Regions from separate parts of the Homo sapiens genome. Here region 2 is linked to region 1. The links come from fine-mapping of genetic effects on gene expression. A gene starts in region 1. The other region holds a variant in brackets. All regions are shown on one strand. Distances are from middle to middle. Region 1 holds the start of RNF103 (ring finger protein 103). Region 2 has its middle 46 kb from the start of KDM3A.

Region 1 (14,839 bases):
TATATATAAAAATTACTCAGGCCACTGAATTAAAAACTGGAGATAATAAAAACTAAGAGAAACAGTGCAAATCACTAAATAAAAGGGATATATATGTGTATTTCTCAATTCAACAAAGGTCCAATAACTAAAATAGATTTGCTTCTGGGGATTCTAAACAAAAAGTTGACCCCCATCCCCCATCTTTCTCTTTCCCACTACTCAATTTTCATCTTCCTCAGTCTCCAAAACCTTTTTAAGAAGATACTGGAGCCTCCCTAAGAGAACTGAGTTATGTGTGAGAAACAAGACACAAGGACACGGAAGTGTCACTGGCTGGTACATACTATTTTGGTAAAAATAATTTTTTTAGGGCTCTCGAATTATCAAATTATTACTGCTTTTCATACCTGAACCAGCCAGATGCCATCTTTTGTGTCTTCCACAAGCTCATAGAAGTGCATTTCACCACTGAAATTGGTACTAGAAACCGATTCGGATGCTTCTTCTTCCTTGAGAGCAGAATAGAGCTCACCCTCCATCAAGTCACCTGAAGAAAGGAAAAGAATAACACTAATAAGGTTGCAAGAATCCTAGATTCCCAATTTCAGTAATTCTATTTTTTACACTGTTAAGAATCATGATATTGTACTTTCATTGTATTTTATAGACAAGAACTACTAGAAGAACCTGGATATACCCACTTAGGAGTCATACATTCAATAAATATGTAGTAAGAACTTCCTATGCATCAGGGAAAAGTGAACAAAATAGACAAAAATCCATCTCTTATAGAACAGGGCTTATATTTTAGTGGGGTTATCACATAATTATTAGGAACTTACCAAATTTGTACCACTCCAAAAAGGCACAACTTTCTTAATTATTTAGTTTTATGAATGACACATACAGGCTTCATATACATTTTTAAACAGTATGGCTTATATGCTTCTTACTTAAAAGATGTAGAATTGGGTTCACAGAATTTGCCATCAGCCCTGCTTAAAAGAGCAACAGGGTTTGTATGACTTGGAGGTTAGAACTTTACCTGTTAGACAGAACAAACTCCATATTCATATACAAATTTATATTATAAATTTAGAGCTTGTATCATTAAACAAAAAGGAAAGGAAAACACTAAAATCAAATTATTTTAACTTTCGCCTTAAATATTAAACAGTGAGAAACCAAGTACTGCACCATGATAGCAGCAAAACCATTCACAATAAACACTTAAATTTTAAACTGCTATACCATGACTTTTCTGCCATAAAACGTGTGATTTGAGTCATACTGGGCTGTGCGTCTTAAAGTTAAATGTGGACTTCTAGTACATTCAATGTGCCAAGTATTTTTAGGCCCAAAAGAAGGCAATAATAAATAACAGTCAAAAGAAAAAAAAATGTGTGACCAAATTATTTTCCATAAAAAAATGATGGCTTTGGCAGTTGAGACACTTCTCATCTCTAAACCAAGAGAGTTTATTTATTAGAGATCTTTTACCCTAGTTACTCCACTTCTTCCCCCTATGGTAGAAATAAGAATCGCCATAAACCAGTCAGCAAACAAGGGGCAAGAATAATATACGATTTTATATTTTCTCTAAAGAAACATTTATCACTTCTGCAGAGTGTGTTCCTCTCCTCTACCCTAATAGTGAGATATGAGTTTTATAACCCGCAACCTACAAATATCCAAGTGTTAAACTGCTAGCGAGCTCATACTCTTGTCTATCACGCTACATGTCTATAAGGTACTAAAGAAGGAAAAGATTTGTCTTGTAAAAGATACAGCTGACAAAAATACTTGAAACAACAAAAAAGATAACCATCAGTTTCAGCTGCTTCCCACAGCAACGCAGAAAGCCTTTCTCAAATTACATTCCACTTTCAGGAAGTATATCCAAAGATATACTTTGTGCAGCAGTGAAAAAAATTAACCATATTTCTCACCCAATCCTACCAAAACCAACAATTACTAAAAACACATTCTTTAAGACATTGAATATTCTCTCAGCACTATTTCACGTATATTTCTCAACCCATTAAACAATGCAAGGGTACCTGTGACACAGAAGACAAAAAAAATTTTTCTTTTACACATCCAAGATGCAAATTTTTAAAAATCCTAACAGAAATATAATATAAACTCGAACATGGCAGGCATTTATACAAAATGCTCGCCTTATTTTCACCAAACTTAAAGTCTGAAAAGCTAATACTGTACGGTGTATACTGTCTATATTCAAACTCATGATTTAACATTTAAATCCTAGGCCCAAGTGCCTCTGATAGTAAGTATTCCAAAGATGTGTCCCCACTCTGGGTATCTTATTATTACTATCGTGACAAATATTGCTATTGACAGACAACGTTTTGGAGTTTTTCTTACGTTTTTATGAACTTCAACTGACAAATAATGCTTTCCAGTTTGTAACTAGTTGATATTCCAGAATTTTGAGAAAATCACTCAACTTAGTAAACAACGCTAAGAAGCCACACTTTAAACTGTCATTTTACGATAACCTTAAAAGGATACACCAACACTCCTCCAAATAATTTCAGACTCCTCCTCAAAGCTGGGATCCGCATACTTGATTGTAGGAAGCTTGGACGAAGAAACCTGGGCAGCTTTAACGCTTCCAGGAAAGGCCTCACTCTGGGGGAACAGCCAGGTACCAGGAGGTACAGGTCGTCCCCTCTCCCAGGTGGAGGGGACCCTAGGGGAAGCCCGATACTCGCCTGACTTTTCCACCAGCTCCCGGACATCCTTCTTCTCGGGCAACCCTGAGTAGCCCAACCCCCGGCACTCCAAAATGGTCTTCAGCTTCTTGAAGCTCAGCGCCACCGGATCCACCAGCTGGGTGGCAAAGATGCCAGTTTCATACCACACAATGGCCTCAAAAAACCTGGCCAGGACGAACAGGACCAGGAAATAGAGGAGCAAGAAAAAAAGCTTCAGCCACATCTTCCCTGGAGTTTCCTCTCTTTCCAGAGAGCTCGGAATACGGGAGAGAGAAGGGTCGAGGGCGGGGGCCGCGGCTCGGTGGCAGCTTGGGCGAGGGCCCCGTGTCCACGCGCGGGCCACCCGGCGCCGTCACTGGCCGGCCATCCCCGGCGGGGAAGCAGGTGACGGGATCCGCGCGGGCGCGAGGCGGCGACGAGGGACGCAGAGACGCAGAGCCTCGCGCCGGGCCTCCCAGTCAAGAGCCGACAAAAATAAAGGGGAAAAACTCAAAACCCCCATCCATTAAGCACAGAAAGGAGAGGGGCGCGGGGAGAGCTCGCGGGGAAGAACAAAACGAGGGACGCTTCCCCCGGGGCGGGCACTGACCCAGGTGGCGGGGTCGGCCCTCCGGTGCCGCGATCTCAAGGGGGAGGGGGAGACCAAAAAATAACTCAGATCCGCCCAGGAGGCGGGGATCCGGGCGGCAGGCCGGGGCCCGAGGGGCCGTGGGGGCCGGACTCCCGCGGCCGCGGGTCAGGAGGGCGCGGCGCTCGGCCGGGCCAGGCCCGGGGCCCAGCGTGTTCTGCGCGGGGAGGAGCGGCCGCCGCAACGCCGCGCCCGAAGCCCAGGCCCCAGGCCCCGCCGACCGCCCAGGCTCCGCGAGAAGAGCGGCGGGCACGGCGGCGGCTCCAGGTTCGCTCGGGCCGGCTGGCGGGCGGCGCCTCTCAGGCGGGCGGGCACTGCGGCCCGGCCCAGGATGGGGCGTCGCGGTCTCTGCAGATGGAATCGGTCTCGGAGGGAAAAAACCAATAATAGGCCCCGAGACTGCTCCTCCAGGCGGCTACCCGGCTGCCTCCCGGCCACTCAGCGCCCGTCCCGCTCGGATGGGCAGTGCCGGTCGCAGCACCCGTCCCCAACACCCCCGCCACCTCCGGAGACCGCGGCCGTACCCTCCACAACCGTGTATCAGCGGCGGCCGCGGCCGGAGCCGAGACATAACAACTGACGTCGCGATGAGGCGGGGCCGGGGCGGGGCCTGCAGGGTGCGCCCGCAGGGGCCGAGGGCGGGGAATTCGGGGAGCCGCGGGGCTACCGGACTACCGAACGAGGGGCGGGAGGAGAGGCGGAGCCGCAGCGTGGTCGGGGCCTTCCCGCGGTGCCGAAAGTTGCCTCTCCGTGCTTTTGCGGCGTGGTCTCCCCTTTTGCCCCTCCAATGTTTAGCAATTGATTTTGTCTGAGGATTAGTCTTTAGATTGTATCACTTTGTGTATTTTTTGTAAAAATAGAGCAGTTAATTATTCTCTTAAAATCGGTGAAAATAGAAATGTACGTTTTTTGATGAATCCTGGTGAACAGGGAAATTTTTGGCACAGTTGGTTTGAGATGGTAGAAGGTTAAACCCAGAAAGCAAATGTTTTGCCCCCTCTTCATGAGAATGTGGCTTTGCACATGTGTGTTGGAGGAGGTTTGGCCAAAACTGGAGTTCGCGTTATACTAGGCCCAGTTGTCGCTGCCAGTTACAGCCTTTTCCCTCCTTCAGTCTCAAGGGTGTTAAAAGCCTGGTGTGGACTCCCTGAGTTCCTAGGACAAAGATTGTCGAGTGTAGATAAGTCCAGGTGCAAAGTTCCGGGTGCTTTATTTTGTACATGGGCCTGGCACAGTGGCTCACGCCTGTAATCCCAGCACTTTGGGAGGCCGAGGCGGGCAGATCACGAGGTCAGGAGTTCGAGACCATCCTGGTTAACACGGTGAAACCCTGCCTCTATTAAAAATACAAAAAATTAGGCCGGCGTGGTGGTGGGCCCCTGTAGTCCCAGCTACTCGGGAGGCTAAGGCAGGAGAATGGCGTGAACCCGGGAGGCGGAGCTTGTAGGGAGCTGAGATCGCGCCACTGCACTCCATCCAGCCTGGGTGACATAGCAAGACTCCGTCTCAAAAAAAAAAAAAAAAAAAAAAAAAAAAAAAGAAAGAAAGAAAAGAAAAAAAAGAGTCACATGGACAAGCATGCGATACCTGGTTCTGTGCTTATAAATTTAACCGGGCCGAGCGTACTCTTTACGTCAATCTCTGTGTCAGTCTTGAGGGAGGAAGGAGTTGGGTTCATAAACTGAACAAGGTTGGCTTTGACCAGCCCCTTTTGATAAGGAAGGAAAAAAAAAACAGTAATTACGGGGAAATGTTACTATTTGTGCAAAACTGTCAACTATCTGAAACTAGGGGTGAAAGTTTTAGGAAGAAAGGGATCATGATCCCAGGTCATGGAGCAAGGGAGGAACGGGAAGCAAAGAATGGACTGTGAGAATGTAGCCTCCGAATGGTGCCCATTTAAAATAAAGTGAACAAGGGCATTTCAGTGCCGGGCTAGTGGGGGAGGAGTTGGAAGGGGATGGGCCCAGGGAGCATTGAGAATCAGAGGAGGAGGTGTAGGAATGTCCAGCCAGCAACTGGACACTGCCCCTGTGTCTTTAGCTTCCATGTGGCTTTGTTCTCGTGGCTGGCAGATCAGTGTGGGAGACTGTGTTAAACAACTGATTCTAACAAGCCTGGTTCTGAAATTTCAGAATTCTTGGGCATGTCTTGGTGACCCTTTGATGATATTGTCCAAACCTTGACACTGAAGGTGATGTCCCTCACCTCAAAGGAATGTATGTACTCGCTAGTGAGGAGAGACTGACCCAATCTCAAAAATACAGAATAGGCATGGGCAGGGAAAGTTGGTGTGTGAGCTGAGGGTGGAACCAGTCAGGCCAGAGTTCCAAATTGGAAAAAAACATTAGAGTGTGGGAGGGACTAGAAAGAAGGAATTAAAGAACTCTTTTTAAATTTCTTGTTTGTTTCAACTGCCTCCCATCCCAACCCCCTTGCTTTGTTTCATTCATGGTTAACCCACAGGAGGGATAAAAGCATTGATAAGAGAACACATTGGGTCATCTGAATAAGAGAGTATGGACAAGCACATTCTATGTTGGTGGGGTATACAATGTGGGTTAGAAGCCCCCCATAAAATACAAGCTCTTTGGCACAGTAATCTCTCTTCAGGAAATTTATCTTGAGGAATAATTGGACATGGGCACAAAGATGTGTGTATAGAATTTCGTCGTTGTTGCAGAGTTAATGCTGGAAAGAAAAAAGGAAGAACCCAAATATCTAGTGACAGAGGATTGATCAAATACAGTAATTCAAATGATGAACCATGAGGCAGCCACTAAAAAGAAAAATGTAGACACACGGTTATGGACATGGAACCATGTCCAAAATATAGTGTTTGGTGAAAAAAACCAGGTGACTGAGAAGTTTGCGTCATATGATCCTATTTTTGTATCTGTATTACAAAAAGACAGAGATGTATCCACTAAATTGTTAGGTGTATTCACCTCTAAGTGATGGGATTTAGAATATTTTTTCTTTTATGCTATATCTCTGTTTTATTATATTTTCTGAAATAATCATGTATTACTTTGTAATCTAAAAAAAAAACAACAACAACAAAACAAAACAAAAAAACCCACTAGGACTGTTTTCCTGGTCCGGAGGTTTAGCGGCAGCGGTTCATCCTCTGGGACTCCAAAGATGACAGGGGTTGGAGGTGTGGGCTGTCTTCCCATGAGATTGATTTCAGTTTCCACTAAGCCTAGCTGGGCAGACTAATTAGAATTTATTTTCAAAAACAGAAGAATGTATGAATTATTCATTTTCATAATCTGTTTTTCTAATAGGCTATTAATCTGGGTTATTGGTTTTATATCTCAGATTCTGTTCATATGTAGGATGGCTTAAATGCTTTATCATTTGATATTGTGGCAAGAGTGTGCAAACTGCAATTAAAGGGCCTGGTCCAGTGGACTAGTGTCACCTTGGTAGACAATCAGAAGACCTCCCTAACCTCTTTTTTTTTTTTTTTTTTTTTTTTTGGGAGTTTTCCTCTGTTGTCAGGCTGGAGTTCAGTAGCACGATCTCAGTTCACTGCAACCTCCGCCTCCTGGGTTCAAGCAATTCCCCTGCCTCAGCCTCCCAGGTAGCTGGGACTACAGGCACGTGCCACCACGCCGGGCTAATTTTTTGTATTTTAGTAGAGATGGGGTTTCACCGTGTTGGCCAGGATGGTCTCAATCTCCTGACCTTGTGACCTGCCTGCCTTAGCCTCCCAAAGTGCTGGGATTACAGGCATGAGCCACTGCGCCCGGCCCCTCATTTTTATTATCTATAAAATGGGATAGGATGCTTACCCTATGAAGCTGTCGTAAGGATTAAATGAGTGAGTGATTGTAAAAGTGCTTTGAAGTACACATTGCTTGTAATTAATTTAAAATGAAGAATTAGTTTTTGGATACATTCTAATGTACAGAGGGTAAAAATTGAAAAAAAAAAAACCAAGAATCGGTTTTTGGAAAAAAGAAAATTAAAGTCTTTGACTGAGCTTGATGAACCAGAGTTATTTTATTTAAGGTCCAAAGAGCCTTCTCTTTTTATTTCACTGTTATCAAAATATCATGCACACATAGTTTAAAAAATGAAGTAGCATTTCAGGGCTACATACAAAACTGGGACAACTTTGGGAGTAAAAGGGGCAATGGTAATGAAATTATACCAGACTAGGGAGGAAAAACTGAGAATGTCCCTGACAAACCCTGCTTATAAAAAAACACATTGGCCAGAAGAGGTGGCTCACCTGTAATTGTAGCATTTTGGGAAGCCAAGGCAGGAGGATCACTTGAGCCCAGGAGTTCCAGACCATCCTGGGCAGCATAGTGAGACCCTGTCTCTACAAAAAAATACAAAAAATAAAAATAAACTGGGCATGGTGGGCACCCTCCTGTAGTTCCAGCTACTCAGGAGGCTGAGGCGGAAGGATTGCTTGAGCCCAGGAGTTTGAGGCTGCTGCAGTGAGATGTGATCCCGCCACGGTACTGCAGCCTGGGTGAGAGAGTGAGACCCTGTCTCAACAAAACAAAACAAAACAAAAGACCACATCCCCTGCTTTTCCCTACCATCTCTGATTCCCATTCCTCAGAGACACTGCCTTCAATTATTTTAGCAATTTTTTCATGTTTACCTCTATATTTTCAAAGAATAGGTTTTTACTGCTTTTCTTGCTTTTTCCATTTTATACATTATCTATTGATTTCTTACTATGGACGATGAGGAATTCTGTCTTTTATGCCCTGTATTCATACACCATTTCCCTCCCCTCATTCCCAACATGATTATATTATATATTCATCTTTATATTAATATGCCCATATAAATCTTGTTCATAGCTGAACCATGTAAGAAACCTTTCTTGTGCAATTGTTCATTGCCTCTGGAGTTAATAATTAACTCAAATTTTGGTTTGTTCTATTTTCTATGGCCCCAGCCACTTATTCATCCCCAAACTCTCTGAACTCTAAGATTACTCAAACAGCTAATCTATTAGTTTCATATTTTATTGGAAATAAACCTTCTGTCCTCAGTCCTCCCACTCCAGGTCAGCCTGGCTCCTGTCCAGAGCCACCCACAGCTGTTGTCTCAGGACTTCCCGTCTCTTCTCTTTTGTGCTGGATTCTCTGTTTTCTTGATCCCATGGTTGCACTTTAGTTCTTTCATTTTCTTGTTTGCATGAACACCTCCACGTCTACAGTGGCTTAGTAAGAAAGTGGGCACGGAGATAAACTTTGGATGCCCTACATGTCTAAAAATTCCTTTATTTTACCCCCATTAGTTGTATGGGTTTTTTTTTTTATCAAACTTGGAGAAGACTTAACTTGCAAGAATATTACAAAAAGTGTCCTTACCAATTCACCAATTGTTAACCTTTTGCCCTATTTGTTGAATTACATCTTTTCTCTAGATTATAAGCGCATACTTTTTTTTTTTTTGTGAACCGTTTGAGAGTTAGTTGCAGTTATCCTCATGTTGGATGATAGTTTGGCCAAATATAGAATTCTAAGCTGGACATCATTTTCCCTCAGAAGTTTGAAAGCACTGATCTATTAGCCTTTGGCTTCTATTGTTGCTGTTGGAAGGCTAGCATCGTTCTGACTCCTGCCCTTTAAAAGTGACTTGTTTGTTCTATCTGTATGTTTTTTGAACTTCCTTTCATCTTTGGTGTTCTGAACTTTTATGATATACCTTAATCCAAGTTTCCTTCCCTTCATTATGTTGAGTACTTTTCAATATAGCAACTCATGACGTTCAGTTCTGGGAATTTCTTTGATAATTTCCTCTGTCCATTTTCATTAGCAAGATGTTGGAACTCCTAAATTGATCCTATAATTGTATTCTCTTTTTTCTCCAGTTTTTCTTTCTTTGCCATTCATTTCACTTTCTAAGAGATGTCTTCGCCTTTATCTTTTGCTCCTTCTACTAAATTCTTTTTTTTTAGAGACAGGGTTTTGCTCTGCCACCCAGGCTTCAGTGCAGTGGTGCAATCATAGCTCACTGCAGCCTTGAACTCCCGGGTTCAAGTGATCCTCCTGGCTCATCCTCCGAAGTAGGTGGGACCATAGGCATGCACCATTGTGCCCAGCCAATTTTAAAATTTTTCTCTTGTTGAGATGGAGTCTTTCTATGCTGCCTAGGCTGGTCTCGAACCCTTGGCCACAAGGGATCCTCCCATCTCAGCCTTCCAAAGTACTGGCATCACAAGCGTGAGCCACCATAACTGCCTAAATTTCTAATTTTGTCTATACTCCTTTTTCATTTTCAAAAGCTCTTTCTTGTTACTGGGATGTGCCTTTTCTGTGGCATCCTATTCTTTTTATGTATGCAATATGTTTATTCTCCTATCTTTCTGAAGATATTAAGTATAGTGGTCCCCCCTGAGGTTTCTTTTGCCCTTTGCAGTGCCTCTGGATTCATTTTCTATTTGTTTGCTTTTGACTTTGCCTTTCACATTAGAGGCTCCCTTTAATTGCTCAGTAATTCTTGGGTCTGTATTCACAGGTCCATAAACTTGAGGCACTGAAAAGCTCATTAGAAATTCTTTGAGAGTGAATGGGGCTCACTGTAGGTGAAAGAGAAGAGCCCTACCCATTTCACTGGGAGGATCTATCTATAAGTCCTTTCTCCACGCTGTTCTCTTTCTTAAGAGAGGAATCCTGCCTAGAGAGTTCAAGTATGGCTGCCAGCATTCTGGGACTGAGTGGGAAAAGGAGCTGGGGTTATCAAGTCTTAGCCGTTAGGCTTGTGCCTAATCCCATGGTTTTCAGTAGGGTGTCTCATCTCTTCTCCCTTGCTTAGCTCTGAGCTAGGAGAGCCAATCCATTCACTTCAGAGGATAAACCTCCCACCTTCCACTGGGCTAGGAGAGGGGCAAGTGCCTGGCTGCACAGGGCCCAACTGTACTTTATGAGACTTTGGGCAAATCCTCGGTTTTGTGCCTCACCCTCCACCCTGGGCTTCTAAAGCGCTGTGCTTCCCATTTCTGACTTTTCCTGGGTTCTGTGGCACTAACTGGTTAGTGTGGCAGAGGTCATGCCACGGATCCAGCATGTCATTGTGTCTTCCCAGGAGTCTAAACGGACCATACCTTATGGCCTTTCTTGCAGTTAGGTTGGGTAAGTGACTGAATTGTAATTAGTGGGAGTGATGCCCACCCCTTTCAGACCTGACCCTAAAAAACAGCCTCTAGCCCTTTCCAGACTGTGTGGCCAGGGAGTGGGGTGGGCCCAGAGCACAGCCCTGAGACCTTTGCTCTATAGCAGGCCCTTTAAACTAGGGATGAAAGAGTTGGGCCCTGGGGCCCCTGGGATTTGTTCTCATCTTTAGCTGAGATATACATATCGCTCCCTCACACACATGTACACATACATACATACATATATATTTGCTATAGAGCCGTCTGCATCCAAGACGCAGTCAATTCCAGAGTACCAGGGGAGTAAGGCCCGGGCTCCCAGGAACCTGAGAATTGGGAGCATAGGAAAAATAATCCTTCACTACCTTGCTTTCTGTTGGGGCAAGGAGAGTGGCAGACAGAGGCAAAGGAAAAGACTCTATTGTCTTTACTTCGCTCCCTAACTGCATTATTAAGAACACATTTTGGTTTAAAAAAAGTGTAAAAATGGCTAGAAATGGTAAAAAAAAAAAAAAGGCTAGAAATCTGCATCTTACTTAGATAGATGGGATGGGTCGGTTTATTATCTTAGATCTGGCTGATAAACACAGCTAGGCACAGATTTTAGGCAGGTAAGCAAGTGACTTTAAGTCTGTCTCCTGGCCGGGCATGGTGGCTCATGCCTGTAATCCCAGTACTTTGGGAGGCTGAGGCGGGCGGATCACAAGGTCAGGAGATCGAGACCATCCTGGCTAACATGGTGAAACCCCATCTCTACTAAAAATACAAAAAAATTAGCTGAGCGTGGTGGTGGGTGCCTGTAGTCCCAGCTACTCTGGAGGCTGAGGCAGGAGAATGGCGTGAACCCAGGAGGTGGAGCTTGCAGTGAGCCAAGATCATGCCACTGCGGTCCAGCCTGGGCAACAGAGCGAGACTCCGTCTCAAAAAGAAAAAAAAAAAGTCTGTCTCCAGCATGTAGACATATTCGATATTTCATTTGGGGACATAAATATTAATTTCATTAGCGACTAATAATAAACAGTATGATATGGGTTTCCCTTGACCTAGGAAAGTTCACCCTTCAGCAGTTCGCCCTGGGGGCTCTTTGCCAGTTCCACAACTGTTACAAGGTGAAGCCAGGAGGTGCACACACACACACCCTGCCACCTACAGTCCCCCTGGATTCTTCCCTCTCAGCCCAAGCTCCTCTTCCCTTTTCTAGCCCTTTCCTCCCACATTTCCCACACTTACACAAGCCCACTTCCGGGGAGTCCCCTAAACAGTTAAACAAAGATCATTGAAAATACTTATAATCGATTTCTGTATTCCCAGACTGATTTACATTTTGAAAGCTTACCACTGGGCAGTATGTAATTGTATCATTTATAGTTGATTTAAATATGGCATTTATGGTCAATAAAAAAGGAGAGTTAAGATTAAGCCGTCAGCACGCACCTACCTACTGTATCGGTGCTGTGAGAAAATCCAACTTGCCACAGAATACCTTCTCCAGGCCCAGCCCCTGCTGCGATTGTGAGCCTCTTTCCTGTCCTTCCTGTGTGGAGATGACCCTGTTGACTGACTCACCACAGCATTGGTCCCAAGCTGCTTTTCCCAATGCATTAAGGCCATTATCTGCAGGAATGAGCAATGCCAAGTGCTTTATTCCGAGCTCTATCTGGCACTCGAGCTGGTGTCTTCAAAAGAAGGACTGCCTTTTCACCAGAGAGATACCTGTAGAAACTGGCTTTCAATAAAGCTGAAAGGAATGCACCCTGGGGCAGCTCGCTTTGTACATTGCCATCCCGATAATAAACAGCTCTTCTACTCTGGCCAGCCAGCCTGCCAGTCAGCTTTTTGAGTGATTTCCTTGAAGATGAGGTTGCCAAAATGAGGAATACACAGCGTCAAAACAGAACATTACAGGACTGCAGTTATGGGAGGTGATGGTTAGTCACACAGTTTAATAATCTCAAATTCCTGATTTCTCATTTCCCTTTTTTCCACCACCTTTTCCCATGCACAGTCAAAAAATTATATCAGGGCTGGGCACGGTGGCTCACGCCTATGATCCCAGCACTTTGGGAGGTCAAGGTGGGCGGATCACTTGAGGTCAGGAGTTTGAGACCAGCCTGGCCAACATGGTGAAACCCCTTCTCTACCAAAAATAAAAAAATTAGCCAGGCATGGTGGTGCATGCCAGTAGTAATCCCAGTTATTAGGGAGGCTGAGGCACAAGAATCGCTTGAACCCGGGAGGCAGAGGTTGCAGTGACCCAAGATCGTGCCACTGCACTCTAGCCTGGGCAACAGAACAAAACTCTGTCTCAAAAAAAAAAAGAAAAAAGAAAAAAGAAAAGAAGAAATTATATCAACGGTTGGCAGCTTCCTCTGCAGAAAACAGTCACCAGTGCTATCTTCTGCCAACACCAGTAACAGCAGGCAGTAGGACTCCCTGAATAAACATTTTGAAGGCAAAGGTAAAGAAGGGTGGAATAAGCAAATAAGAAGTCACCATTCCTCCTGGAGTAAACCATTCCCTCCTCTGATTGCCTGAAGCTAACCATGAGACAGCAGGACTGGCTACATAATTTTCCAGCCTAGTACAAAATGAAAATGCAGGCCCTTGTTCAAAAGGCTAGGAAGAAAAAGTGCCATTAAAAGTGCTGAAATACAAAGCTTTTCCTTTCTTTCACCATCTATCTTGACCTGTCGGTCATGATGTGCTTTTAAAATTTGCTCTTTAATATAGTTCGCCTTTGGGCAGGGGATACTCCCAGGGCAAGTGTGAGTCCTCACAGGCTCCGGGGTCCCCCTCCCTCCAGCCACAGGCCAATGCTTGGTGCCGGGCCAACCTGCAGCAGATGGTTGGCCCTGAAGGGATTGAAACCTCAGTGCCAGGACAAGCTCAGTGCCTGGATTGGGGGTGGGGCAGAGGCGAGTTGCCCCCTAACAGTTGTGGTGCTGCCAGGCCCTGCTGCAAAGAGACCCTGGATGCCCAGCCTCAAGTCTCCCCGGGTGCAACTCCAGGTCCCTATTGAAAGCAGAGGATGACAGCAGAATGTTACCCCCCAACCCCCACCTCTGCCAGACACAACATAGTTGCCATCCCAGTTAAAGGCAGGCAGGGGCCACAGTGGGGAGAGCAGATGTGGAGAGGGGGTGGCTGGGCAGGGTCCCAGGAACCAGGCAATGGAGAACAGGCTGCCAAGGACCTATTCTCAGGGAGGTGGGGAGCTGGCAGCAGGCAGAACCGCATGTAAGCTAATGGCACGTGCTTCAATGTCCATTGGACTTCACTTGCAAAACACAAATTCAAAGATTAAATTATTAAGAATTCAAGACACAAATTCAAAGATTAAATTATTAAGAATATCAAGCAACTGCAGAGCATTAAACTCCAAGCATGCAGGGCTCTTCTGAACCTGGGGCCATGTGCAGCTGCACTGTTCCCATACCCATGAAATCCGTCCTCTGCAACCAAATTATTGAAATCAGTGAAGGTCCAGAAAATGTGTGTTCAGAAACGTATTTGTAGCATTTCTCATATGCTGCCTTGTACATAGTCTTATTTCTATACTACCCTCTTTCCTTCCTGCATGCCATCTGCATGGCCTAGCTCCTGTGCTTTCAGGCTAATCTCTAGCATGTTAGAGCTCCCCTCTCTAACCCTGATCTGTAAAATGGAAACAATAATGATGATCTCATAAAAGTGTTGTGAGGACCAAATGAAGTAAAGCTTAGAAGCCATTTAGCCCAGAGCCTGGCACATGTTTGTTTGTTTGTTTTTGTTTTTGAGATGGAGTCTCGCTTTGTCACCCAGGCTGGAGTGCAGTGGCGTGATCTCAACTCACTACAACCTCCGCCTCCCGAGTTCAAGCTATTCTCCTACCTCAGCCTCCTGAGTAGCTGGGACTACAGACGTGCCCCACCATGCCCAGCTAATTTTTCTATTTTTAGTAGAGATGGGGTTTCACCATGTTGGTCAGGCTGGTCTCAAACTCCTGACCTTGTGATCTGCCTGCCTCGGCCTCCCAAAGTGCTGGGATTATAGCGTAAGCCACCGCGCCCGTCCAAGGCATATGTTTTATACATGCAAACACACACACACACACACACACACACACACACACGTGCCCACATACACTGATAGGAATGCATCTCTGCTATGACACATAGGGACAGTACCAGAGTACACAGAAGACACTTAATAAGTCTATTTTTAGACAAAAGAACACAGGGTGAACATGTTTTAAGTGTCAATCTGGCTAATGTATATTTTAAATGAAATGTAGTGCAAATGGAAGTCTGTTAAGTTACAGAGAGACTAGAAAAGGATTTTTCAAAAATTAAAGTCATTATGGTAGAGTAATTCTGA
Region 2 (15,104 bases), 230 kb before region 1:
TGTTCCAACATCATTTGTTCAAATAACCATCTTTGTTCCACTGTATTACCCTTGCTCCTTTGCCAAAGATAATTATATTTATGTGGGTCTATTTCTGGGCTTTCTATTCTATTCTGTTCCATTGCCCAATTTGTCTTTTTTTTTTTTTTTTTTTTTTTTTTTTTTTTTTTTTTTTGAGACAGGACCTCACTCTGTCACACAGGCTGGGATGTGGTGGCACAATCACAGCTCACTGTAGCCTCAACTTCAAACCCTTGGGCTCAAGTGATCCCCTCACCTTAGCCTCCTGAGTAGCATGCACCACCATACCTGACTAATTTTTCTATTTTTTATAGAGACGAGGTCTCACTATGTAGCCTTGGCTGGTCTCGAACTCTTGGACTCAAGCGATCCTCCCACCTCAGCCTCCCAAAGTGCTAGGATCACAGGTGTGAGCCACCATGCTTAGCCTGTTTTTAAATTAATACCACACTGGCCAGTCGTGGTGGGTCACACCTGTAATCCCAGCACTTTGGGAGGCCGATGTTGGCGGATCACTTGAGGCCGGGAGTTCAAGGCCACCCTGGCCAACATGACAAAACTCTGTCTCTACTAAAAATACAAAAATTAGCCATATATGATTGTGTGGGCCTGTAATCTCAACTACTTGGGAGGGTGAGGCACAAGAATCACTTGAACCTGGGAGGTGGAGGTTGCAGTGAGCCAAGATTGTGCCACTTGCACTCCAGCCTGGGCAGTAGAGTGAGAGTCTGTCTCAAAACACAACAAAACATTATCAAGCTTAAAAAAAAATTAGTGTTACACTGTCTTTATTACCATAGCTCTGTAATAACTTTTGAAGCCAGGTAGTGTCACTCTTCTGATTTTCTTCCTCTCCTTCAATATTGAGTTGGTTATTCTGAGTCTTTTGCCTCTCCATATGAACTTTAGAATTGGTCTATAGATATCCACAAAATAATTTACTAAGATTTTGAGTTGGATTGCATTGAATGCATAGGTAAAATTGAAAAGAGCTGACATCTTGAAAATATTGAGTCTTCCTATCCATGAACATGAAATATCTCTTCCATTATTTAGTTTTTCTTTGCTATCTTTCAGAGTTTTACAGTTCCGTTCATATGAATCATATACATATTTGATAGATTTATAACTAAGTATTTCATTTTGAGGGGTGCTAATGTAAACGGTAGTGTGTTTTCATTTCTTTATTTTTATTTTTTACCATGTTCTATCATCAGTGTTTAAGTGGTTACATGTTTTAAAATTCAAATTCTACTTGTTTGTTGCTAGTATAAAGGAAAGTTATTGACTTTTGTATATTAACCTTATATTCTGCAATCTTGCTACAATCACTTATTAGTTCTAGGAGTTTTTTGTTGATTCTGTTGGATTTTCTTCATAGACAGTCAGGTCATCTTCAAACAAAGACGGTTTTGTTTCTTCTCTCTCAATCTGTGTACCTTTTTTTGTTTGTTTCTTGTCTTGTGTATTAGCTAGGACTTCCAATACAATGTTGAAAAGGAATGGTGTGATGGGACATCTTTGCCTTGTTCCTGATCTTGTGAAAAAGCTTTGAGTTTCTCACCATTAAATAAGATGTTAGTTGTATACTGTTTTGTAGATACCCTTTATCAAATTGGGGGAGGTCCCCTCTATTCTGTTTGCTGAGAGTTTCTAACATAAATGGGTATTGGAATTTGTCAAATGCTTTTTCTGAATCTATTGGTATGATCATGTACTTTTTCTTCTTTAGCTCGTTGATGTGTTGGATTACATTAACTGATTTTTGAATGCTGAACAAGTCTTGAATACCAGGTGTATATCCCACTTGTCCATGGTGTATAATTCTTTTTATACATGGTTAGATTCAATTATCTAATGTTTGTTGAGAGTTTTTGCATCTATATTCATGAGAGATATTGGTCTGTAGTTTTATTTTCTTAGAATGCCTTTGTTTAATTTTGTTATTAGATTGATGCTGACCTCATAAAATAAGTTAAGGTGTACTTCCTCTGCTTCTGTCTTCTGGAAGAGATTGTAGAAAATAGGTATATGTTTTTCCTTTAATATTTGGTAGAATTCACCAGTGAAGCCATGTGGAGTTGGTGCTTTCTGTTTTGGAAATTTATTATTTATTCAATCTCTCTAATTGTTATAGGTCTATTCAGATTGTCTATTTATTCTTAGGTGAGTTTTGGCAAAATGTGACTTCCAGGGAATTGGCCCATTTTATCTAGGTTAACAAATTTATGGGCACAGTGTTGTTCATAGTATTCCTTTATCATTCCTTCAGTGTTCTTGGGATCTGTAGTGATGTCCCCTCTTTCATTTTTTATATTAGTAATTTGTGTTTTCTTTCTTTTTGCCTTATTTAGCTTGGCTAGAGGCTTATCAATTTTTTTCATCTTTTCAAAGAACCAGCTTTTGGCTTTGTTGATTTTCTCTGTTGCTTTTCTGTTTTGAATTTCATTGATTTCTGCTTTAATTTTTATTTATCTTTTCTGTTACTTTACATTTAATTTTCTCTTTTTGTTGCAGTTTCCAAAAGTGGAAGCTTAGATGATTGATTTTACATCTTTCTTCTTTTCTAATATATAAATTCAATGCTATACATTTTCCTCTTAGTATTGCTTTCACTATATACCACAAATTTTGATAAGTTGTATTTTTATTTTTATTTAGTTAAAAATATCTTTAAATCTCTATTGAGATTTCTTCTTTGGCCTATGTTTTCTTTAAAAGTGTATTGTTTAATCTCCAAGTATTTGGCTATTTTCCAGCTATCTTTCTTTTCTTTTCTTTTCTTTTTTAAACAAACCACATGACTGTGTTAGCCACCTCTTTAGTTTTGCTTTTTTTAAAATTTATTATACTTTAAGTTCTGGGATACATGTGCAGAACGTGCAGGTTTGTTACATAGGTATACATGTGCCATGGTGGTTTGCTGCACCATAAACCCATCATCTACATTAGGTATTTCTCCTAATGCTATCCTTCCCCTAACCCCTCACCCCCAAACAGGCCCTGGTGTGTGATATTCCTCTCCCTGTGTCCATGTGTTCTCATTGTTCGACTCCCACTTATGAGTGAGAAGATGCAGTGTTTGGTTTTCTGTTTCTGTGTTAGTTTGCTGAGAATGATGGTTTCCAGCTTCATCCATGTCCCTGCAAAGGACATAAACTCATCCTTTTTATGGCTGCATAGTATTCCATGGTGTATATGTGACATATTTTCTTTATCCAGTCTATCATTGATGGGCCTTTGGGTTGGTTCCAAGTCTTTGCTATTGTGAACAGTGCTACAATAAACATACGTGTGCATGTGTCTTTATAGTAGAATGATTTATAATCTTTTGGGTATATATGCAGTAATGGGATTGCTGGGTCAAATGGTATTTCTGGCTCTAGATCCTTGAGGAATCGCCACACTGTCTTCCACAATGGTTGAACTAATTTACACTCCCACCAACAATGTAAAAGCGTTCCTGTTTCTCCACATCCTTTCCAGCATCTGTTGTTTCCTGACTTTTTAATGATCGCCATTCTAACTGGCGTGAGATGGTATCTCATTGTGGTTTTGATTTGCATTTGTCTAATGACCAGTGATGATGAGCTTTTTTTCATACGTTTGTTGGCTACATAAATGTCTTCTTTTGAGACATGTCTGTTCATATCCTTCGCCCACCTTTTGATGAGGTTGTTATTTTCTTGTGAATTTGCTTAAGTGCCTTATAGATTCTGGATATTAGCCCTTTGTCAGATGGATAGATTGCAAATTTTTTCTCCCATTCTGTAGATTGCCTGTTCATTCTGATGATAGTTACTTTTGCTGTGCAGAAGCTCTTTAGTTTAATTAGATCCCATTTGTCAATTTTGGCTTTTGTTGCCGTTGCTTTTGGTGTTTTATTCATGAAGTCCTTGCCCATGCCTATGTCCTGAATGGTATTGCCTAGGTTTTCTTCTATAGTTTTTATGGTGTTAGGTCTTAGGTTTAAGTCTTTAATCCATCTTGAGTTACTGTTTTTATAAGGTGTAAGGAAGGGGTCCAGTTTCAGTTTTCTCATATGGCTAGCCAGTTTTCCCAACACCATTTATTAAATAGGGAATCCTTTCCCCATTGCTTGTTTTTGTCAGGTTCCTCAAAGATCAGATGGTTGTAGATGTGTGGCATGATTTCTGAGGCCTCTGTCTTGTTCCGTTGGTCTATATATCTGTTTCAGTATCAGTACCATGCTGTTTTGCTTACTGTAGCCTTGTAGTATAGTTTGAAGTCAGGCAGCATGATGCCTCCAGCTTTGTTCTTTTTGCTTAGGATTGTCTTGGCTATATGGGCTCTTTTTTGGTTCCATATGAAATTTGGAACTCCTGACCTCAGGTGATCCACCCACCTTGGCCTCTCAAAGTGCTGGGATTACAGGCATGAGCCACCACACCCAGCCAATGATGAATTTTTTAAGAGAAAATAGCATTAGGAAGAATTAAAAGGAAGGCAAAGCCTCTGAAAGATCCAGAGGAAAATTTTAGGAAAGAGTTTGACCATAACCATGTTTTGGCCACTGGTGTATGGCATATACTGCATGCTATGGGGCAGCACCCTAGCCTCCCAGCTGTCACTGTAACTGAGCCCTCCACAGGCCATTCCACTGTTTAATCAAGCCAGCTGATTTGGGGTGATGTGTAGCACATGGCAAAAACAGTGAATTCTATAGATACAAGTAATGAGCTCACGTCTATAGAATGCCCTTCACCATAAAATGATCTCCTTAATAAAGGCAATTTTGTGTGAGTTGCAGATGTTGAGTAAGGCATTATTTAAGCCCACAAATGGTGCTGGCAGAAGGACTTCTATGGTGGGCATAGAAGACAAACTCGTATCTTGAATAAGTATCTATTCCCATAAAGACAAATTGCTGTCTCCTCCGCAATGGAAAATGTCCAGTATAATCAACCTAAGACATTGGGGCTGGCTGGCAGCCCAAGGATAGGTGTCATAATGAGGCCCCAGTGTTATCTCTGCTGTTAGAACATTGGGCACCCAGCAGTGACGTTAGCTAGATTAATCTTGGCGAGAGGAATCCAGCTTGGTGAGCTCATGTAAAATCTACCCCTGCCACCGTGGACATTTTGTTTATGGGCCCATTGAGTAAGCATCAAAATGTTTAGGGAAAGGAAATCACTTTCAGCCACACATGGGTTGTTTTGTGCACTCCACTAGACCACAGAGAGCTGCCTCTTCAGTAGATGCCCTTTGGTGAGCATTCATAGTGGTTACAAATATGTACATTTTTAGTGCCTGTTTTGAAGAGTTAATTCACATACTTCCTGAAGACTTCCTTGTCACTAGTCTTCCAATCTTGCTCCTCAGAAGTCAGTGACCACTCTTCTAATCCATTAATCCTTGATCATAAATTGGTATAGTTGCATACTCCAGGGCATCTCGCCTTCTACAGTAAGTGGACAACAGATGTACTGCTTAAAATTCTGCCTATTAAGAGGATTTCCTTTCACCCTTGCCTTTCAGACTCACTCTTCAGGGGAGCTGTAAAACAGCAGCTGTTCACTTGCAGCCCTATCATGCAGACCCACTGCAAACCAAGCCTGTGCTTTTTCTTCTTCTGTCAGCTAGTCCTAGGCAACTCCCCTTGAGGCCACTGGTGTGGGCTGAGAGAGGTGGTAAAGTAGTAGAAGCAAAAAATGTGGGAGGGTGAGCCACCTGCTTATGCAATATTCTTGAGCCTTTTATACCTGCTTGGGCCTTATCTTGTAAACACCATTTCCATTTTATACTGAGTACTGCTGCACATTCCAATTTTATGACTCAGTGGATTAGATAATGCCCAGTTCACAATGGACAGTTTGAGTTGCCTAGCTTGCCATAGTCAGGATTCAGACTCTATCAGGGACTAAATTCAGCCTTGTTCTGGGAATTGGTGCCTAGGTCTTGTGGTTTCATGGGGTTTTCTGGACTCTCTAAAGTTGGCACAGGGCTTCCTGTATGCAAAAGAAATCCCTACACTAAAGACTTCCCTGACATGATTGTGTTGCTGCATAAACTGTGATAATAATGACTAACCTGACTTTCACTTTTATTTAGTTAAGCTTCATAACAATTTGGTGAAGTAGGTTTTATGTTCTCCATTTAATCAGAAGAGAAAAACCTTGATACAGCTCTAGAGGTTAAATGCCTTGTCTGAGGCTACATGGCTCACAAGTGGTGACAGCTGGAGTCAGACTGCCAACTGCAATACTGTCCCCTTGGCCACCCGAAGTAGCTTCCCAAAGGCATATTTATATCAGCCACCTGCAGAGTCCTTTCAGTGCACAGAGACAAATTAGATTCATCTAGCCTGGGCCAAGGTATAGGGCATAGAGTAGGGTAGGTAAAGGCAAGGATATCAGTGGGTCTTGGTACAGGATGATTTTGTTGAATTCCTAAGGACCACATTCTCAATGGTGATGCCCACATTATAATATATACTGAAGCAATTATTGATAAAATGATATAATTTCTAAAATTTGCTTTAAATTAGCCAGGAAGAGAGAAACCAGTGATGAAATAAGATTGGCCATGTGTTGATAACAGTTGAAGCCTAGTGATGAAAATATAGTTCATTATACTGTTTTTCCACATACTAAAAAGTAAAAAATATATTCTATTCACCATGGCAGACCACATTATGGGCCATGCACCTATCTTAGCAAGTTTAAAACAACAGAAACTACACAATATCTGCTCTCAGACTACAATAGAATTAAATCAGAAATTGATAAAAGAAAGATAGCTAGGGCCGGGCACGGTGGCTCACGCCTGTAATCCCAGGACTTTGGGAGGCTGAGGCGGGTGGATCACGAGGTCAGGAGTTCGAGACCAACCTGGTCAACATGGTGAAACCCCATCTCTACTAAAAACACAAAAATTAGCCAGGCATGGTGGCACGCACCTGTAATCCCAGCTACTCGGGAGGCTGAGGCAGGAGAATTGCTTGAATCCAGGAGGTGGAGGTTGCAGTGAGCTGAGATCATGCCACTGCACTCCAGCCTGGGTGACAGAGCAAGACTATGTTAAAAAAAAATCATTATTTTGTTGTAAATCCAATATTGTTTTAAATTATTTAAATGTCACTTTAAATGTTGTTATAAATCCAGTTCTCTTCACTCCGCATCAAACAAGGCAAGGTGTGATCACACAGACTATTTGGGGGTGGGTGGCTGTGGGTCGTCATCTCCACAGTGCTTGGTTTCTCTTCTCAAATCTACAGCTTGGAGTAGGTTGATTTCCCTGCCTGTTTCCCAGGGAAGCGTTGCACTACCCATATGGCAGCTTTCTCATACTCCCTGTCTGCATTCCTCTGTTTCCCTAAATGAATGGAATATCTTGGATGAACTACTGCAAGGTCCTTTGGGTCTCTCCCACACAGTTTTGGCTCACTGCAACCTCTGCCTCCTGAGTTCAAGCGATTCTCCTGCCTCAGCCTCCTGAGTAGCTGGGATTACAGGTGCCTGCCACCACACCTGGCTAATTTTTGTATTTTTAGAAGAGACTAGGTTTCACCACGTTGGCCGTGCTGGTCTCGAGCTCCTGATCTCAGGGGATCTGCCCGCCTCGGCCTCCCAAAGTGCTGGGATTACAGGCATGAGCCACCACACCTGGCCCGATAATTCTTTACTCCTAGAACTAACTTCCCAAGATGTACTATACACACACTCACTTCCCCCAACCCCCACTCAACATACACATACACAAGACTCACTTACTGCCCCATTCCCTGGAATTGGTAGCCTCTATCTCCAGAAATATGGGATGTGAGAATGGAGGGTATAAAAGAGAAGGGAAGTGTACAAAAAATGCACAAAGTGCATAAATAAATATCCAAGGGATTTAGAGGGTGGATTAAATGCCAGCTTTTGTTCTTCCTATGTTTTGTGTGTCTGAGCCCAAGGACAAAACCTAGATGGAAGAATCAAGCTTGCTTACTTACATCCAGCACTCAGAAGGCAAAGCTGGGGTTCGTACCAGGAGCTGTAGCTTGGGTGCTTTCCTCAAAATGGTTATATCTGCCTCATAATCAGATCCCAATTTATCTGTCTATTGATTGCCTGTTGGTCGTAGTTTTCAGTGCTGCTGCAAGATCTGGTTATTTTCTTCATCTTCGTGGACAAAACACTGGAGGCAGTATTTTGAGGACTGCTACTCCTTCCCATGCTATTCAATAAATCTCCCCCAGTTCAGTCAGAAACACTGAGAAGTTACCCTGTGCCAAGCCCTGGATCAGGTGGCACAGGCTCCATGATCATTGTGTATGGGTGAGCTCATAGTCTAGAGCCAGTGCCAGCCGTGGGACTCGGTTAATGCCTCAGCAAACCTCCTGGCTCTCTGCCCCCCACCCCCTTCGCCCTTCGCTGACTTTCCCTTCATGACCCTGGTCTTTCCGTTGTGCCCGTTTCTATTTGCATAGACAAATACTTTAGCTATGCACCTATCTTGATTCTAGAAACTTAGGCTGTGTTTCAAGAAATGGATTGTTGTGGTCTCCATTTTGCCTCTGGAGCAGTGCATAGTCCACAGGGAGGCAGCATAGTCCACAAGCCAGGGTCCATGCTGAATTCCAGATAGAGATAGCAGCTGTGTGGCCTTGAGCTTCATGTCTCCAGCTCCCTCATCTGTCAAATGGGGATAATAATGTGCACCTGATAGAATTTTGTGGTAAGAAAATGAGAGGAAATATATTACAACACAAAGCACAGTCCCTGAAACAAAATGAAAGCTGTATAATACTCTTTTTCTTCCCCATCTTATACATAATGTGAAAACATTCCCTAAAAAACTTGGTTTTGGTCGGGCGTGGTGGCTCATGCCTGTAATCCCAGCACTTTGGGAGGCCAAGGCGGGTGGATCATGAGGTCAGGAGATCCAGACCATCCTGGCTAACACGGTGAAACCCCGTCTCTACTAGAAAATACAAAAAATTAGCTGGGCGTGGTGGTGGGCACCTGTAGTCCCAGCTACTCGGGAGGCTGAGGCAAGAGAATGGTGTGAGCCCGGGAGGCAGAGCTTGCAGTGAGCCGAGATTGCGCCACTGCACTCCAGCCTGGGCAACAGAGCGAGACTCCATCTCAAAAAAAAAAAAAAAAAAAAAAAAAAGAAAGAAAAAACAACTTGGTTTTGCCAGTATGACCTGTGAAGCTTTTCTGTATTCCTAGAAAAGAGTATTGTGTGAGTTGGATGACTGTGTGTGTGTGTGCACGTACACTCGGTCACACATGCACACTCTCCAGGTCTGCTAAATGGGGAATGCTAAAGTTAGTCTATTTTTGTTTGTTTGTTTGTTTGTTTGTTTGAGATGAGGTCTCACTCTGTCTCCCAGGCTGGAGTGCAGTGGCGTGATCTCAAGATCTCCTCCTGGGCTCAAGTGATTCTCACACCTCAGCCTATCAAGTAGCTGGGATCACAGGTGCACACCACCATGCCCAGCTAATTTTTGTATTTTTTGGTAGAGACAGGGTTTTGCTATGTTGGCCAGGCTGATCTCAAACTCCTGAGCTCAAGCGATCCTCCCACCTTGGCCTCCCAAAGTGCTGGGATTATAGGCATGAGCCACCATGCCTGGCCACC[A/T]AACTTAGTCTGTGTGTGTATGTGAGTATGTGATGTGCATATGCTCGTGCACACTTGCATGCCTGTCTTGGAGAAAAGAAATGACTCAGTTAAATTTGATTCGGATAATTGTCTAATAAATTAGTCTTTAATCAATCAGCAGGTCTTCCTAAAACCCTCACTTGCTCTAGATGCCAAGAGGCACAGATTGATAGAAAATATATCTTCTGCCTACAAGGATTTGCTGGTCAAAACTCTTTAAATTAGCTTAGGCACAAGGGTAAAATGTATTGGCTCAGGGAGAAAGACTATAGAAAGAGTAGGTTCAGCTGGATCCAGGGCTTAAACCGCCAGGACTCTCATACTGTCCTTGGGGCTCTGTTCTTATCTCCTTGCTAGCTTTGTTTTCTTAGACTGGCTTCTCCATAAGATAAGGGATGTGGCCGTGGGCAGTCCCAGCATTACATCCACACCGTGTGCAACCACAGCTCTCCTTTCCAAGTTTGAATGATAAAAATCTAACAAGAAAACTCTGATTGGCCAGGCTTAGGTCATGTGTCAATTCCCGGCCCAAACCAAGCCCTTGGGAGTTAATACTCCACTTGTGTCACCTGCATTCACTGGTGGCCAGAACACAGAGTATCACAAATGGCAGACTCATGTGGCTAGGGGGCAGTTTCCCGGAAGAAGGATGTTGCTATTATGAGCAGATGAGATAAATAATTACCTACGACACAGATGCATGCTAAATTTTGCAGTGGAGGAAATTAAGTCAGTGAAATAGTAAGTCGGTATTTTTTGAATTCTATTTTGATGGTGTCGGTGATATATTTATATAACTTTTACCCAGTTGGAACAAGCTATTTGCTTTTTGATAATATAAATGAACCACTTTAGTCAAAGTTTCATAAAAAAGGTATATTGATCCAGTTATTTTCAGCAAATTACTGTGGTTTTACAGCTCAATGCATGCCCATGAGATGAGTATTTTCTCATTTACTTTATAGTAACCTTTGTTAAGAGACTTATTAAGTCATAGCTTGTGGTACAAAGAATTTAAGTCATCTCTCCTCTCTATTCCACAAATGTCTAGGGCTTCTTTCTTTTTTGACCACTAATGCCTATAATTTCCAGTATTAATATCTTCTGACATGAACACGATAACATGAATCTACTAGATATAAACAGATGTAACAGCCATGGAATCCATTAGTGATGCTTTCAGAAAAAGAAATTTGGGATCCCAGGATCTGTCCCAACATTTGTAATATCTTGGGATAGGACCAGAAATTATGCAAGACTAAATAGAAGGCATGGATGGTCTTGGACTTACATATGGACTCAACTTACTGAGGTGGTGGTGAAATGGGGAGAGAGTGAATGAGTCAAGAATTGCAGAGACAAGATCAAGAGGCCTTGGCAACTGCTTGGGAAGGGGAACAAAGTAGAGGGAGGAGCCTGAGATGACACTGAAGTGGGGTGGAGGAGCAACTCACAGAACTAGGAGACAGGGAGGGGAAGCAGGTTGGAGGAAGAGTCCATTCCAGACACGGTGAAGACGAGCTACCAGGATTTGTTGGTAATATGGGAGATTTGTTGGTAATGCGAGATTGAAGCTCAGGAGAGAAAACAGATACTGGCTGAGCCATGATGGCGAGTAAGATCAGCAAGTCAAAAAGTGTAGAGAGAGAAGAGAAGACAAAGGAACTTTGAGGAACACTCCCTTAGTGACTGGAGGAAGTACTTGGAGCCAGAGAAAGAAGCAGAGAAGGAGCATCAGAGAGAATGCAGACACTGGAGAATGCCGTGTCGCATTAAAGAGCTTTGGAAGGAGAGTGGCCCATGGTGTCAAATGTGAAGAGGAGCCTGAGAAGGAGTCCCTGAAGCCAAACTGGAAAGTCTCTGCTAGGTTGGTGCAATGGACTGAAAGTGTGTGTCCCCCCACCCCACAAATTCTTATGTTGAAGCTCTAATCCCAGTGTGATGATATTAGCAGTTTGTGCCTTTAGGAGGTGATAAGGTCATGAAGGTGGAACCCTCATGAATGGGATTTGTGCCCTTATAAGAAAAGGTCAGAGAGTTAATACACTCTCCCTCGTGAGGATGTAAGAAGTCAGCTGTCTGTCACTGGAGGAAACCCTCACCCGAACCCAACCATGCCAGCACCTGTTCTCTGATTTCCGGCCTCCAGAACTGTTAAATTTGATTCAGATAATTTAAGAAAACTGTGAGAAATAAATTTCTGTTATTTATAAGCCACCCAGTATATTACTCTTCATTACAGCAGCCCAAAGGGACTAAGAAGGTTGGGCTTCCCTCATTTAGGAGAGATTCCTCAGAAGCAGTCTTGTGCAGTCGACTTATTCCAGAAGACATCTCTGAGGGTGTGGGGGGCAGCAGGACGGGGAAAGGTGTAGTACACTGGAAGAGGCATATCATGGCTATAAGATTAATGGCAGCCATAAGGCCCACTCATGCATCTTGCAGGGCTGGTACTACTGGTCACTTGGTAGTATGCTACAACCTGACCTGGAGATTTCCAACTCTGGTCCATGGATTTCCAGGAGACAAGGCCACCTCAGCATAGATGCAACTTTCATAAATCATAAAACAAAGCTTACTCTTACAAGAATAGCTTCAACTCCATTTATGAAAGAAACACTTTGTAACTGAGGTAATTGACCTGGACTGAATGCAGGTATAAGAAAGGGGGAAGGATCCCCCAAACTCTGAGAACAGTCTCCAGATGGAGACCCTCTCTGTCATTTGTCATCTGATCCCCTGACTGTATCTAGCCCATGCCACCAGCCTGCTCCTGTCTTATAAAAGTGCTGCCAGAATAAATTCCTTGAGCATTAGACAGTGTCTAAGACTCATGTCTGATGCAAATCTAACTGAAGGGGAAATATCACTCTTGGAGAAGCTGGTTAACTCAGACCACTCGAAAACCCCCAACACAACAAAAGCACAGCAGGTAAGCAAGGTGCAATTTCCAGCAAGTCCCAAGGAGGGGAGCTCCAGGCTGACCCTGCAGTGGGTGCTCTGGGCTTGCATTAGTCAAGGTTCTCCAGAGAAACAGAACTAATAGGATATATAGATGCTCCTCAACTTACAATGGGGTCACATCTTGATAAACCTGGCATAATTTGAACATATTATAAGTAAAAAAAAAAAAAATGCACTTAAGGGGCCAGGTGTGTTGTCTCAGGCCTGTAATCCCAGAACTTTGGGAAGCCAAGGCAGACAGATCACCTGAGGTGAATAGTCTGAGACCAGCCCAGTCAACATAATGATATCCCACCTCTACTAAAAACAGAAACTAACTGGGTGTGGTGGCACATGCCTATAATCCCAGCTGCTCAGGAGGCTGAGGCAGGAGAATCACTTGAACCCGGGAGGCGGAGGTTGCAGTGAGCTGAGATTGCACCACTGCACTCCACCCTGGGCGAGAGTGAGATTTTGTCTCAAAAAAAAAAAAAAAAAAAAAAAAAAGCACTTAATACACACGACCTACCTGAACATAATAGCTTAGCCTAGTCTACCTCACACGCGCTCAGAACACTTACTCTAGCCTACAGTTGGGCAAAATGATCTAACACAAGCTTATTTTATACTAAAGTGTTGACTATCTCATGTAATTTATTGAATACTATACTGAATGTGAAAAACAGAAAATGGTTGTATGAGTACTCAAAGTATAATTTCTACTGAATGCCTATTGCCTTTGCACCACTGTAAAGTAAAGAAATTGTAAAGTCGAGCCATTATAAGTCAGGCACAGTCTCTCTCTCTCTCTCTCTCTCTCTCTCTCTCCCTCTGTCTGTCTCTGTCTCTCTCTCTCTCTGTATACATATATGTGGAAATTTATTATAATAATTGGCTCACATGATTATGGAGGCCAAGAAGTCCCACAATTTGTTGTTTGCATCGTGGAGAACCAGGAAAACCAGTGTTGTAATTCAGTCTGAGTCCAAAGGCCTGAGAACAGTGGAGACAATGTTGTAACATATAATCCAAGTCCAAAGGTCTAAGAAGTAGGGGGCAGTTGGTATAAGTCCCAAAGTCCAAAGGTCTGATAACCAAGAGCTCTGATGTCCAAGGGCAATGGATGTTCCACTTCAAGAGAGAGATAATGCCCTCTTCCTCTGCCTTTTTGTTCTATCTGAGCCCTCAATGAATAGATTAATGCCCATTCACATTGAGTGAGGTTGGATCTTCTTTACTCAGTCTGTGATTCAAATGCTAATCTGTTTACCAGCTCTCTGTTTTACCAGCTATCTGGGCATCCCTTAGCCCAGTCAAGTTGACACCCAACATTAATCATCACAAAGTTGTCTTAGTGCATTTTAGTGTGTTACAGTGTTACAGGCTCACACCTGTAATCCCAGCACTTTGGGAGGCTGAGATAGGTGGATCGCTTGAGGTCAGGAGTTCGAGACCAGCCTGGCCAACATGGTGAAACCCCATCTCTACTAAAAATACAAAAATTATCTGGGCATAGTGGCCCATGCCTGTGGTCCCAACCACTCAGGAGGCTGAGGCAGGAGAATCGCTTGAACCTGGGAGGCAGAGGTTGTGGTGAGCCGAGATCATGCCACTGCACTCCACTCTGGGTGACAGAGTGAGATTCCTTCTCAAAAATAAAAATAAAAATAAACTATGTAAAAAAAAAAAAAAGAAGGTAGTGAATGAAACAGAACAACACCCCAGGGTAGAGAACAGTACCCTGGGGAAGCCTCCATCCTTCCTAGCTGAGCAAACAAGGCAATCTTGACTTGCCAGCAATGTGAGACAGGGAGAGAAGATCCCCTATTCTCTTGTACTGGGTTCCATCCCATCTCCACAATGCCTGGCAAAAGTGCTAATGGAAAGGTCTGAAGCTTTCTGTGCCATGCTTTGCCCATGAGCAATAATTACAAATGTGTATGGCCCAGGGCAGTTTCCAGAGCATTTTCCTGGATTTTCTAATTTAATGGCTGTGACAACCCCATGACATCAATGTTATTATTGCACCTTTATGAATGAGGAAACAGGCTCTGATAAGTAACTTGCCAATCTCCAAAGTGAAACATTGGAAGAACTGAAATGCAGACTCCAAGTCCCCAGCTGTAGCAAACTTAGTTAAAATGAGGGGTTGGGGTGAGATCTGAGGGGTATATGCAGGAGGCCTAGTTCCAAGAGCAATTTTTAATTTCCTGCTTTCATTTGATGATAATGTCAAAAATCGTTTAAACCATTTCTAAAGACAATATGTGAGCTTTTCTCAAACTGGGGGACAAGGACCTTGGGGTCCACAAAATGAGTTTCAGGGATTTTGTGAATTTTTTTTTCTGTTTAAAACAATTGTAAATTGTATTTAAGTTTGAGAAGCACTAGATTAGATGCCCTCGAAGAGGGGATCCAGCTCTAATATGCATTTCATAGATTTACTGTCAAGTAGGAACTGGGTGACTTGTTAGATTCTTTCAACATCTATTCATTTATTCATTTTTTTTTTTTTTTTGGTTAACCAT

Evidence for each region.
Region 2: its variant is fine-mapped to the expression of RNF103 in whole blood (TOPMed, PIP above 0.99).

The regions. Positions count from the first base shown.
Region 1 is chr2:86,619,941-86,634,779 of GRCh38, forward strand. RNF103 (ring finger protein 103) reads right to left here and starts at 3,925. Exons shown (of 4, transcript NM_005667.4): 1 at 2,721-3,925; 2 at 390-529. The coding sequence starts at 2,946. It overlaps RNF103-CHMP3 (RNF103-CHMP3 readthrough), which reads right to left. Exons shown (of 8, transcript NM_001198954.1): 3 at 390-529. The coding sequence starts at 521. It overlaps LOC124907853 (a long non-coding RNA gene), which reads right to left and starts at 12,574. Exons shown (of 2, transcript XR_007087122.1): 1 at 11,922-12,574; 2 at 8,336-8,548. RefSeq lists silencers at 2,746-2,795, 2,976-3,055, 3,326-3,865, 3,946-4,115 and enhancers at 3,826-4,120, 12,872-13,395.
Region 2 is chr2:86,388,058-86,403,161 of GRCh38, forward strand. No RefSeq gene overlaps it. Among named protein-coding and RNA genes, the nearest start is that of KDM3A, 46 kb to the right of the region's middle. The variant A/T (reference allele first, on the strand shown) is at 9,613.